Homo sapiens: one gene and its partners. The protein of the gene in region 1 purifies or fractionates together with the protein of each later gene. This does not show direct contact. Each region holds a gene or a part of one and is shown on either strand. Other genes may lie near its edges.

Region 1 (3,655 bases):
ACATGTACAACTTTAGGCATGTTCTTTAACTTCTTTTGGCTCAGTTTATTCATCTGTGAGGTTTAGATGAACAAGTGCATGTGGAATGCTTAGAGTAGTGCCTGGCACATAATCAGTGCTATTCAAGAGTTTGCTGCTGATATCGTAGAGTCACTGCTTGATCCTGGGGTCAGAGTAGCTAAGGGGACAGAGGGAAATTTCTGCGCTTTTTCTGTGGAAGGAATAAATACTCAGCAGCTGCCTATAATAAAGTGTTAGTAGAAATCAATTGAATTAGGAGGAATTTCTCATAATAGAAGAGCCTTTATTTTTTAGTCCCCCTTGTCTTTATTTTTTTAGTTAGGGAAAAGGCAAGTGGCTCAGTTCAGATTTAATGAGGGCAGTTATTCTTACTTACTACCATGCTTTCAGTGTTCACCCTAACCTGTTCTAACAATAAATAACTGCTTGTTTATTGGGGCTTAGGGACAGGGAATAATTGCAGGAAAAATCTCTACTATGTTCTTCTGAAGAAAGGAAATATTTTCTCGTAGGAAAATTTGATGAAAAAATTCACATTTAAATAAAGACCTTTTTTTGTTTTTTAAAAATACATACAGTATTTGTTAAGAGCCAAAATACTTTATTAAGTGCCTTTATTTGTTTTTTATTAAAAATTTAATATGTGCTTTTTGAAATGTAAACAATGAAGAATGAAGAGTTAAAAAAATGAGTCTGCTTTGAACCTATTCCCTAATCCTTGTCTCTTTTCAGAGAAAATGTCTATTTTTTGTATGTTCTTTCCAGACCTTTTTCTACATGTATGTATATACAATTTTTTTTTAAAAACCAAATGGCATATATTAGGCACATTATGTGTTATATACAATGTTCTCTGTTCTCTGACTTTTTCCTTCTCATTGTGTGTCACTATATATAGATTTACTTCTTTATTTTTAGAAGACATGTAATATTCTCAAGGATGAATATGGTGTAATTCATTTAACTGTTTCCCTGTCGATGAATATCTAGATTATTTCCAATATTTTGTTATAGTTTATTTCAACAAATGTATTGACTGTCAGGCAGTGCTTGTGAACGGATCACAAAAATTCCTGCTCCCATGCAGTTGCCTTTTGGCAGTAGACCGGCAACAAATAAATATATGTTAGTTGATATTGAGGAATGTAAGGTTGGGGAGGAGATAGGGAGTGTGGGGGAGGGGTGTGCATTTTAAAATGGGGTGGTTAAGAGTGAGATACCAATAGATGACATTTGAGTGGAGATCTGGTGAAGGTAACATAATGAGCTCTGAAGGTATTGGTAAGGGAGGAAGAGAGGAATAGAGTATTCTAGGAAGGAGAGAAGCCCAAAGGGAGGTAGGCATGTGCCTGATGTCGTGGGGGAAGAACAATGTGGCTGGAATGAAATAAGCAAGGGAGAGTGGGAGATGAAGTCACAGAAGGTGACGGGCAGTCAGGGCAGATTGTGTTGAGCTTTTTGAACCCACTGTAAGGATTTTTAAAAGATAAATAGTTATTATTTTTTGATTTTAAAAATAGAGTTGGGGTCTTGCTGTGTTGCCCAAGTTGGTCTTGAACTCCTAGGCTCAAACAGTCCTTCCATCTTGACCTCCCAGAGTGCTTGGATTACAGGCATAAGCCACTGCACCCAGCCTATAAATATGTATTTTAATTATAGATATGGGGTCTTGCCATGTTGCCCAGGTTGGTCTCGAACTCCTGGGCTCAAGCTGTCCTCCTGCCTTGGCCTCCCAAAGTGCTGGATTTACAGGCATGAGCCACCAGGCCGGGCCCACTGTAAGGATTTTTGTCTTATGTCGAATGAGGTGGCAAGCCTTTGGAAGTTTCTGAGCAGAAGCATGGCATAATCTTATTTACATTTTGAATGGTCTCTCTGTATTCTTGATAATAGACTTTGGCCAGAAGCAAGAAGGCTATTTAGGAGGGCATTCAGGCATGGTTTGGACCAGGATAGTGGTTTGGTGGTTTGGACCAGGATAGTAGCAGTAGAGGTGGTAGGACATGGCTAGATTCTGGGTGTGTATTAAAGATGAAGTGAGAGAGAGTAGTCAAGGATCACTCTGAAATTTTGGGACTGAACAATTGGAAAGTTGAAGTTGCCGTGAAATGAAATGATGAAAACTGCAGTAGGCAAGGTTAGGAATTTGGCTTTGGGCACGTTCTGTTTGAGAATTTATTAGACATCCAACCAGAGATATTGAGTATGCAGCTGGAAATGTAAATATGAAGTTCAATGGAGAGGTCAGGTTTGGAGAAACAAATGTTGGAGTCTTCAGTTTACTAAAGCAATTTAAAACCCTCAGTTTACCTGGGAGTAAATTAGAGAAGAGAGTCAGGAACAGCCTCTGGGCACTTCAAACTTGGTTAAGGGGCTGAGGATGTGAGAAGGATGCATCGAAGAGACCAAGAAAGGAGCCAGTGAGATAGAAAGGAAACGGAGAAAACCAAGAGAAGGCAGTCAACAGTGTCACTCAAGGAGAACTGAGAATTGACCATTGAATTTAACCATGTGGTAGTGTGGGTGACCTTGCCAAGTGCAATTTTGAGAGAAAAGTAAGGTATGTTTGTAGGAGATTTGAGAAAGGATGGAAGGAAAGGAATTAGAGACTGTTAGTATAAGCATCTCTTTTGAGGAGTTTGTTGTAAAAGAGAGAAAATGGGGCCTTAGCTGGGGGGTGATATGAAGTCAAGAAATTTTTTTTTTTTTTGTTTCTTTCTTAGATGGAGAAATAAAACATTTAAACTTATGGGTAATAGTCCAGCAGACGGACAGTTTGATACATGACAAACTGGAGTAAGTTTAGAGACAAGTTTGAGGAGGACATTTTAATTTATAAGCACATGTGCAAGGATTTTTATAGGCTAGATTCTTAAAAGGATTTCCTGAGTCAAAGGGTATGTGCATTTTAAAAACCTGTACCAATTTATATTCCACTTTCAGTGTATACCCTTTCTAACACTGAACATTCTTAATCTTTAAAATTATTGCCAATCTGATAGGTGATGATATCTTCATTATTTTAATTTGTTTTACTGCTTTCTAGGAACTGTTTATTTAGTCTATCTAATTCTTTGTGATATTTTGTCAGATACTTTCTCCTGGCTGTCTCTTGCCTTTTAACTTTGCTTATGGTATCCTTTTACCATGTACGACTTTTCAAAAATGTTTTTATGCAGTTAAGTTTGTCAGCCATTTCCTATAGCATTTGGGTTTCATTTAGATGATGTAAATATTTGATATAATCTAATATGTTTATACGTTTACATTTTTAATTCATTTGGAGTTTATTTTTGTGTATGTTATGAAAAAGGTTTTCCATCTTTCTCTGTATTCTTAAACAGCTAAATACCATAGGAGTTAACTGTTTCTTGAAGGTTTGAAAGAAATTACCTGTAAAATCTAGGACTAGAACCTCTTTGTAGGGTAGGTCTTTGACTACTGTGTAATTCTTTTTCTGTGGTTAATGATCTGTATGGTTTATGTACTTCTTTTTAGTTTTGGTAGTTGATATCTTCCCAAGAACATCATTGTTTTCATTTACATTTTCAAATTTATTGGTTCAAAATTCTACATAAAGTGAGAAAATAACCAAGTCTTCTTTGCAGTATATCCCTATACTTATACCTTTATC
Region 2 (3,655 bases), on another chromosome or scaffold:
GCTGTAAGCCTAAAGCTAACCTGAGCTCAAATAAATAAGGATAATGAGCATATAAGGAAGAAAAGCTTTTTTAAGTGTTGCAGGTTATTGGTGTGATAGAATTCCTTCTAATATGATGTGAAGTACTGAATAATTACATCTGATTCTAAATCCAAGGTGCTTATGAAACTTCTAAACATATTGCCCATGATTTTAAGAAGTAATTACCTCTTGCAGATAAGCTATGTCCCATACCCTCAGTTCACTGTCTGAGGCCCCAGTGATGAGTCGCTTTTCTTCTGACAACAGAACCAACCCCCATACCTATAGAATATAAAAAGATTTGAGTAATACGATTTTCAAGAGATTCCAGGTAGCATAATATGACATTCCAAAAGTCTGTTACACCGTAGTAAAATGTCTAGCAATTTAAAGGCAAAGAAAAGGCATATCGACAACCCTTTCAAAATGCACTAAGAGAAGTCTCACTTTTACAGAGAAAAAAATGGCCTGCGGTGAAATTGTTACTTTTGTGATACTAGCAGTTTGTCTCTAACCTCGTATAATCAAATTAAGATAATGGCTGTTCAGCATAAATCTTAACTAGAATCCACTCAAATGATGATTTTAAGTCTTCTATTTCTTTGCTTTTAGCAGTGTCTAGCAAATAAAAGGTGCCCCACTAATGTCCATTGCATAACTTTCAGCTTCAAGTATCCGGGAATTAAATAATGAAAATAATATTGTTGCAAATCAACAAAGAATTTAATCTTCTTGTCATTAATTCTAGGTATTACCTTCCTGAATGCCTGATATGAATAAAGCACTGAGGATGCAAAGATATATAAAAAACAGTCCCTGAACTCAACTGAATAGATCTCTGTTCAAGTAACTATTTTAACAGCTACCACGTGCTGCTTACCTGTCAATAAGCTAGGTGCTGCACATATAATATCATTAAACTTCCCTACATTCATAAAAGTGGACACTTATTATTTAGAAATGATGAAACTCAGGAATTAAAAACCACGCAAGGCCAATTTTTACTACATGTCAGAGCAGCAGTATCTGCTCCAATGGCTGGCATTGCTTCCATCATACCAGCCTCACTGTCCCTCAAGATGGCATATGATAATTACTGTGTGCACTAAAAACAAAGAGCCATGAAAGGGGAAGAGAAGACCACCACCTTTTCCCTTTTGCCTTCCCATTATTTCCCTGGGCCCATGACCCTACACTTACCTCAGTCCGGTGGCCAACCATTGTTTTAAAGCAGTGCTGAGTATCAAGGTCCCACCATTTCACCATGGTATCTTTCCCACTAAAAGAAGAAACAGGAAAAAAATATATAGCCTGTTTAGGAAAACTCATTCAACGAATAGGGAGATCCAAAACTCACTGTTGCTTTAAAAGGAACATATGCTTCAATAATGTCTAAAGCTCCGATTCTCTCTGATCTTACTTTTGAAAAGCAAAGAATCCTAACTTTCCTTGTAGTTATTCCTGTGCAGAAAATAAAATGTTCCACCTATAAGCACAAGAATGACTTTAGATGCAGAGTACCAAAGAATACAGAATTTGATCCATCAGGCCTTCCTCCTATCATTTCCATCATCACAGCACTGGCATTCCCCTCAGACAGTCTACCATGGAAACATCTTAGACCGCTCCCACTCCCTTGTCTTCCTGTCCAGTTAGTCTCTTGTCCTGAAAATGCCTCCTCTGTGAAGTTTCTAAGTATTAACTCCTCTAGTCCATTTCTGTACACTAACCTGAACTTAAGTCCTACTACCTGGATTATTTTAACAGCTTCTCATTTGGTCTCTTTGTCCATTGCTGTTCTCTCATCCCATCCAATGTGCAACTGTCAGATAACCTTAATTTTTAATATTTGCACTAGCTCAATGTTCCCTGTAGAATCAAAGTCAGGCTCATTGGCAGCAGTCTCAAAATTTCCTATTTATTTGTTCTTAACCCCCTAAATATAACCTCTCGCAGCCAATGGCCTCTACTACTCCTGCTCAAACACCTCTTCCCTACCTCCTCACTACATAAATCTAATATAATCCTCCTTCATGAGCAAACTGGAAAAAAACACCGCTCAAAAACCTGATTTACAAAGTCCGTCCCATATAACCCCACCTTACAGTGTTATTTCTTTGCCTTTATATTCCCTAAGCTGTAATATATATTTTTTCTATTAGAACTATAGAATCATTCTCTTACAGAACCTGTGTTATCTGAACAAGACACTAATTTACCTGTATCCTATCCCACAGAAACAAATCCACCATTGGTAAAGCATTTAGTGCTCACAGCTTTTTCTGAGTCATTACTATGGTTCCTCTAATTAATGCCTGGCAAACCTTGGTATCCCAGCTTTTCCTAGGTGGCCATTCTTTAGGAATATTCATTATTATATTAGGTTGAACAATATAAAATTGTTGATATTTGATGATTTTTTATGTACACAAATAAAAATTTCAAATGGTTCATCCTAATAGGTGTTCAGAAGGCCTATGAAGTACAGTACATCTCTCCTCAAAAGGCAAGCCGAATTTAACACCTGGTATTCATATCTTCCCTCTGCTCCATATTCTGATTCCTGGCTTTCTAGAGATCTAGAAGGTAGACAAAGCTCATTCTATAATGAGTTTCAAAAGGCTAAGAAACACAGAAAAACTGATATCAAGAAAAAAGAATGACAAATTAGAAAAATGATTTTAAAAATAATATAGCTTTGGATAGCTCTACGATACTACTTAGAAGAAATGGAAAGAAGGAATGCAGGAGAACAGGAGAGAAAACTAATGCATAAGCATGAGCACACTGCTCATGAGAGAAATGAGTAAGGAATAAAGCAAATTCTCTCTTCCTAGAAAATAACTGGAAATTAAACCATTATTTCTTTACCTAGTAACTAGCAGGTTCTTTTCTCGTAGAAACAATGCTTGTGTGATGGCATCCTTGTGCCCCTTTAGACGGTACAGACCACTTTCATTGATCACATCCCATACAATAATATCTGTGTCCTAAAGGGATCAAATAATACAGATGAAAAATAATTTTCTTTACCATATATGGCCCAACTTGACAAACAATGAGACTTAATTATTAAAAAGGCAATACACAGTCCTTACAGAAAATTTGGAAAGCATGGGGAAAGTACAGGGGAATAAACACCAGCCTTATTCTCACCAACCAGAAATAATCCCCAGACATTGTTATTGCTCTAGTCTTTATGTATAATCCAGGTTATTTTCCTATTAGAAGACTAAAATCATGCCATTCATATCATTTTACAACCTTTTCTTTATTCATTTAATATTATTTCCATTTCTTCCATGTTATTCCAGAGTGTTCACATTTTTAATGCTCACATAATAATCAATTCTAAAGTAATAGCACAACTTATTTAAAAATTTTTCTGTTTCAGACATTTAGTTTCCAACCTTCTGCTGTTATAAATATGCAGAAGTGAACATTCTTATATACAAATTTCTGTATGTATCTCTGATTAGAAAAAACTAAAATGAAAAGCTCTTGGGTTATATGATATGTTTATTTTTAAAGTTTTGGATTCATACTATCAAAATGATCTCCAGGTTGGGTAAATCTATAGAACCAGCAGGGATATGTATGACAAGGCCTGTTCCCCATTCATTTAACTCTATTA
Region 3 (3,655 bases), about 39 Mb from region 1:
CTCAGAACTTTATGCTAAAAACATATAGGCTGGTGAGCCGTAATTTAAAAAAACACGGAAGAGAAGTTCTGAAATCATAATAAATACTCAGCATTATAAACTGATGTAGTGCTTTTAAGTTAGGGTCATTGTCTTTTTGTTGGGAAGACATGAGCTGTTAACATCACTTTTGAAATGAAAGAAGTCTTGTGGCATTTGCCACTTGAGTGAGACTTTTGTCTCTGAAGTCACTGAATCACTGAGCCAGCCCTTGACCAGTCAGTGGGGCAACTTCTCTCTTGTGTGCTCTGAGCTGCTCTACTAGTTAAAGCTATTTGTTGACTCAAATTGAAGTTAATGCACGTTTATAAAGGTAAAAACTTTTGAGGCTCTTTTCTTGACAACTAAGCTAGAATTTGTGGAAAAATTAGGAGAGATAAAGGAGAGTTGGCTGCTTAGATATGGACTTACGGATTCATAGATTTTTGGGTATGAATCTCTTTGGTTGGGGAGTGAAGGCTTCGCTTAGGTTGGACCTGTCAGGAGGGGCGGCCTGTTTCTGAGAAGTGGAAACAGCATTGAGGCTTCTTGGACCTGTTAGGAGAGTACCAAGAACATACTAGGTTTTCCTATTTGCTGCCTTTTTTCCATAGGGGTGGGAGACGGGGGACATAGAATTACGAGTTTCTCTTCCCATTGGAGGGATTTCTTTTTGAAGTAGTGAGAAGTAAATCACCCAATAGCTTCTCTCTTCCCCCCTTTTAAAATGTCTTTTGTGGGCTGGTGGGCATTTGTATTTGTTCATTAACGATGTTTTAGTATTTGCAATACTAAATAAAAACATTGTTTTTCTTTTTTTCCAGGAAAGTCCCCAGAGGAAAAAAAGGAAATCAGAAGCTGTAGGAATGAGTAACCAGACTGACTTATTGGCTCTTGGCACAGCAGTTGGTAGCATTTTATTATACAGCACAGTAAAAGGAGAGTTACACAGTAAATTAATAGTAAGTGTGTGTATATTTTATTTAAAAGTGATGTGACAGGGAAGCTGATTATTAGAGATTATTAAAAAAAAAACACTTCAAGGTATGTGATGGGATCTGTGCAGTAGGGACAGTTTTCAGTCTCATCTACGTTTAAATAACTGAATAGTAATATTTGATAAAAGCTATAATAGTTAACAGCAGTCCTTATTATGGGTCAGAGTATGAAGACTTATTGACTAGGTTTAAAATAAGGAAGGGTTACAGGAACTCTAAGGAATCATAGATAGCAGCTGTGGAAAGCAGCTCCCCACCTCTTGACCTAGGGGAATAAAGGAGGCAGTTGAAATTACTGCTAACACTGAGATCTTTTAGGGGCAAGTGTTGTGCTGCTGTTGCTGTCTCTTGAAGAGTGGCCCCATGGGCATGGGATCGAGACTTCAAACTGAGAAGGAGGCTCCAGCTGCCTGGTGCTAGTGTCTCTGATGGAGATGATGAGATTGGTTCTCCTAGGGTTGGATAAATTGGATATTGGGTTCAGCTGCTGCTGTTGGGCATTACCACTGTTGGGGTGATGCAAATAAAGAGACAGGAAGGAACAAGTCCCTTCTCTCTCCATCCTTGTCTCCCTCTAGCAGTTGCTATTGGTAGAACCTATGGATCGAGCTGGGAAATCAGAAATCAGGTTGCTGAGTCCCAGCATCACAGCAGAATATAAAGGATGGTTTGGCATTGGAAGACAGTAACCGAACTGGTCTAGTAGGTTCAGACAATATCTATTGCAGTGTGTTTTTGTTCGCTGGACTTCTGTATATAGGAGTGTTTTAAGTTTTTTGTTTTAAATAACATTTGTCTATAGGAAATTTGTAACTACATAAAGTTGAAAAGGAAAAAAATTTATACCTAAGTCTGTCGCCGAGAGGTCCTCTTAATAATTTGTATATTTCTTTGCTTTATACATACATTAAAAAAATATAGTTGGCTTTCTGTTCATCTAGTTTGTATCCTGATTTTTTTCATTAGATTACAACATAACTATCTTATATTTGTCAATAACTGGTTATAGAGATTTTTAGTGACTGCTTAAAATCCCAACAAGTGGGATAGTCCATTATGTTACTTAACTTGTTGACCATTTAGGGGTTTCCAGATTTTTAAATTGTTGTAAAACAATTTCTTTTTCTTACATGGATTCACAGAATTACTAACCTAAAATTAGTGAGCCAAAGGGTTGCTATATATGTAGTATAAAAATACTTTCTGGAATAATTTTTACTAATTTATGCTTAATATCAGTGATAGGAGATAAGTACTTTATCTCAGCAGTATCATTACCACTACTGAATAGCCCAACAAAACAGCAACAACGACAACAAAGAAACAGCTAATTTGGTAGAGGAATATTTTAATCTGATTTTAAGTTTGCATTTAGGAATGTATTACTTGTTTTTATATTAAGATTACAAAAATAATACTCAACTATAAATGAATTTTAAAGCATTCAGAGATCCATCTCAAGAAAGCATTCTTCCCTATATTCTTCCCCCCTCCTCCAAGTCGAGTGTGGTCCTCAGGTGAGCTCTTACACCTACTATAGGTAGGAGCCTATCCTTTAATTGGATAGGTTTTTTGTGTTCAGCAGGTACCTAGCATCTTGTGCAGTGTGATAGCTGCTCAGCTGCTGTGGCTGCTGGAGCCTAGAAGACTTATTTTTTTTTAAAGACAGAGTCTCACTCTGTCGCCCAGGCTAGAGTGCAGTAGTGCGGTCTCAGCTCACTGCAACCTCTGCCTCCTGGGTTCAAGTGATTTTCGTGCCTCAGCCTCCTGAGTAGCTGGGATTACAGACGTGCACCACCATAGCTGGCTCATTTTTGTATTTTTAGTAGAGATGGGGTTTTGTCATGTTGGCCATGCTGGTGTCGAACTCCTGGCCTCGTGTGATCTGCCTGCTTGGCCTCCTAAAGTGCTGGGGTTACAGGCATGAGCCACCATACCCAGCCTAGAACTCCTTTTTATATCATTTCACAACCTTACAAGATTGTAAATACATCTTCGACAGGGATGAATTTATCAAAAAGGAGTCAAGAGGGTCAGGGTGAGGGGTACTGGGATGGTATGGTAAGGTGGAAAAGGACCAGGCTTTGGAGCTAGTCTGTCCTGAGGTTGAATCCTACTAGTTGTATGATCATGTGTGAATAATTTAACTTCTCATCCCTTAAATGGGTATTAACAGCCTACCTTGCATGATTTTATTAAGACTTAAATGTAATAATGTATTGAAAGTGCCTGGCTTGTAAGTGGTATTTAGTAAATATTTGTTGAATGAGTAAGTGAACAAGTGAGTGAACACATCGCTAAATTGCTTTCCAAAAGGGTATGCTAGTTTACACTGCTGCTGGCAATAGTATTATGTAACCTCACCAGCATGGGCATCATAAGGCTAAACACATTGCTACAGGAACAGACTAAAAATGCCACTTTGTTTTGGTTTGTATTTCTTTGATTACTAACAAGGTTGAATATTTTGGTATATTTTCTAACTGAATTCTTTCTGTGGAATGTATCTGTTCATATCCTTTAGTTACTTGCGTGTATATAAGACTTAGTTCTTGGAGTACACAGCTGATAGGAAGGAAGGAAAGTAACTGAATGTAACATTTTAAAATATTTTTCTTTTGAAGTGGTAACAATGTTAT

The links.
Region 2: the proteins of C1D (region 1) and WDR3 purify together in Homo sapiens (co-immunoprecipitation; one large-scale study listed by IntAct). This does not show direct contact.
Region 3: the proteins of C1D (region 1) and WDR43 purify together in Homo sapiens (affinity purification with mass spectrometry; 2 studies listed by BioGRID and IntAct, with this or other methods). This does not show direct contact.

What each region holds. Positions count from the first base shown.
Region 1 is NC_000002.12:68,049,377-68,053,031, reverse strand, and holds part of C1D (nuclear nucleic acid-binding protein C1D), read left to right. Parts: intron 1-3,655. UniProt on the Homo sapiens protein: Plays a role in the recruitment of the RNA exosome complex to pre-rRNA to mediate the 3'-5' end processing of the 5.8S rRNA; this function may include MPHOSPH6.
Region 2 is NC_000001.11:117,936,125-117,939,779, reverse strand, and holds part of WDR3 (WD repeat-containing protein 3), read right to left. Parts: intron 3,012-3,655; coding exon 2,893-3,011; intron 1,301-2,892; coding exon 1,222-1,300; intron 304-1,221; coding exon 208-303; intron 1-207. UniProt on the Homo sapiens protein: Part of the small subunit (SSU) processome, first precursor of the small eukaryotic ribosomal subunit.
Region 3 is NC_000002.12:28,901,145-28,904,799, forward strand, and holds part of WDR43 (WD repeat-containing protein 43), read left to right. Parts: intron 1-842; coding exon 843-980; intron 981-3,655. UniProt on the Homo sapiens protein: Ribosome biogenesis factor that coordinates hyperactive transcription and ribogenesis. Part of the small subunit (SSU) processome, first precursor of the small eukaryotic ribosomal subunit.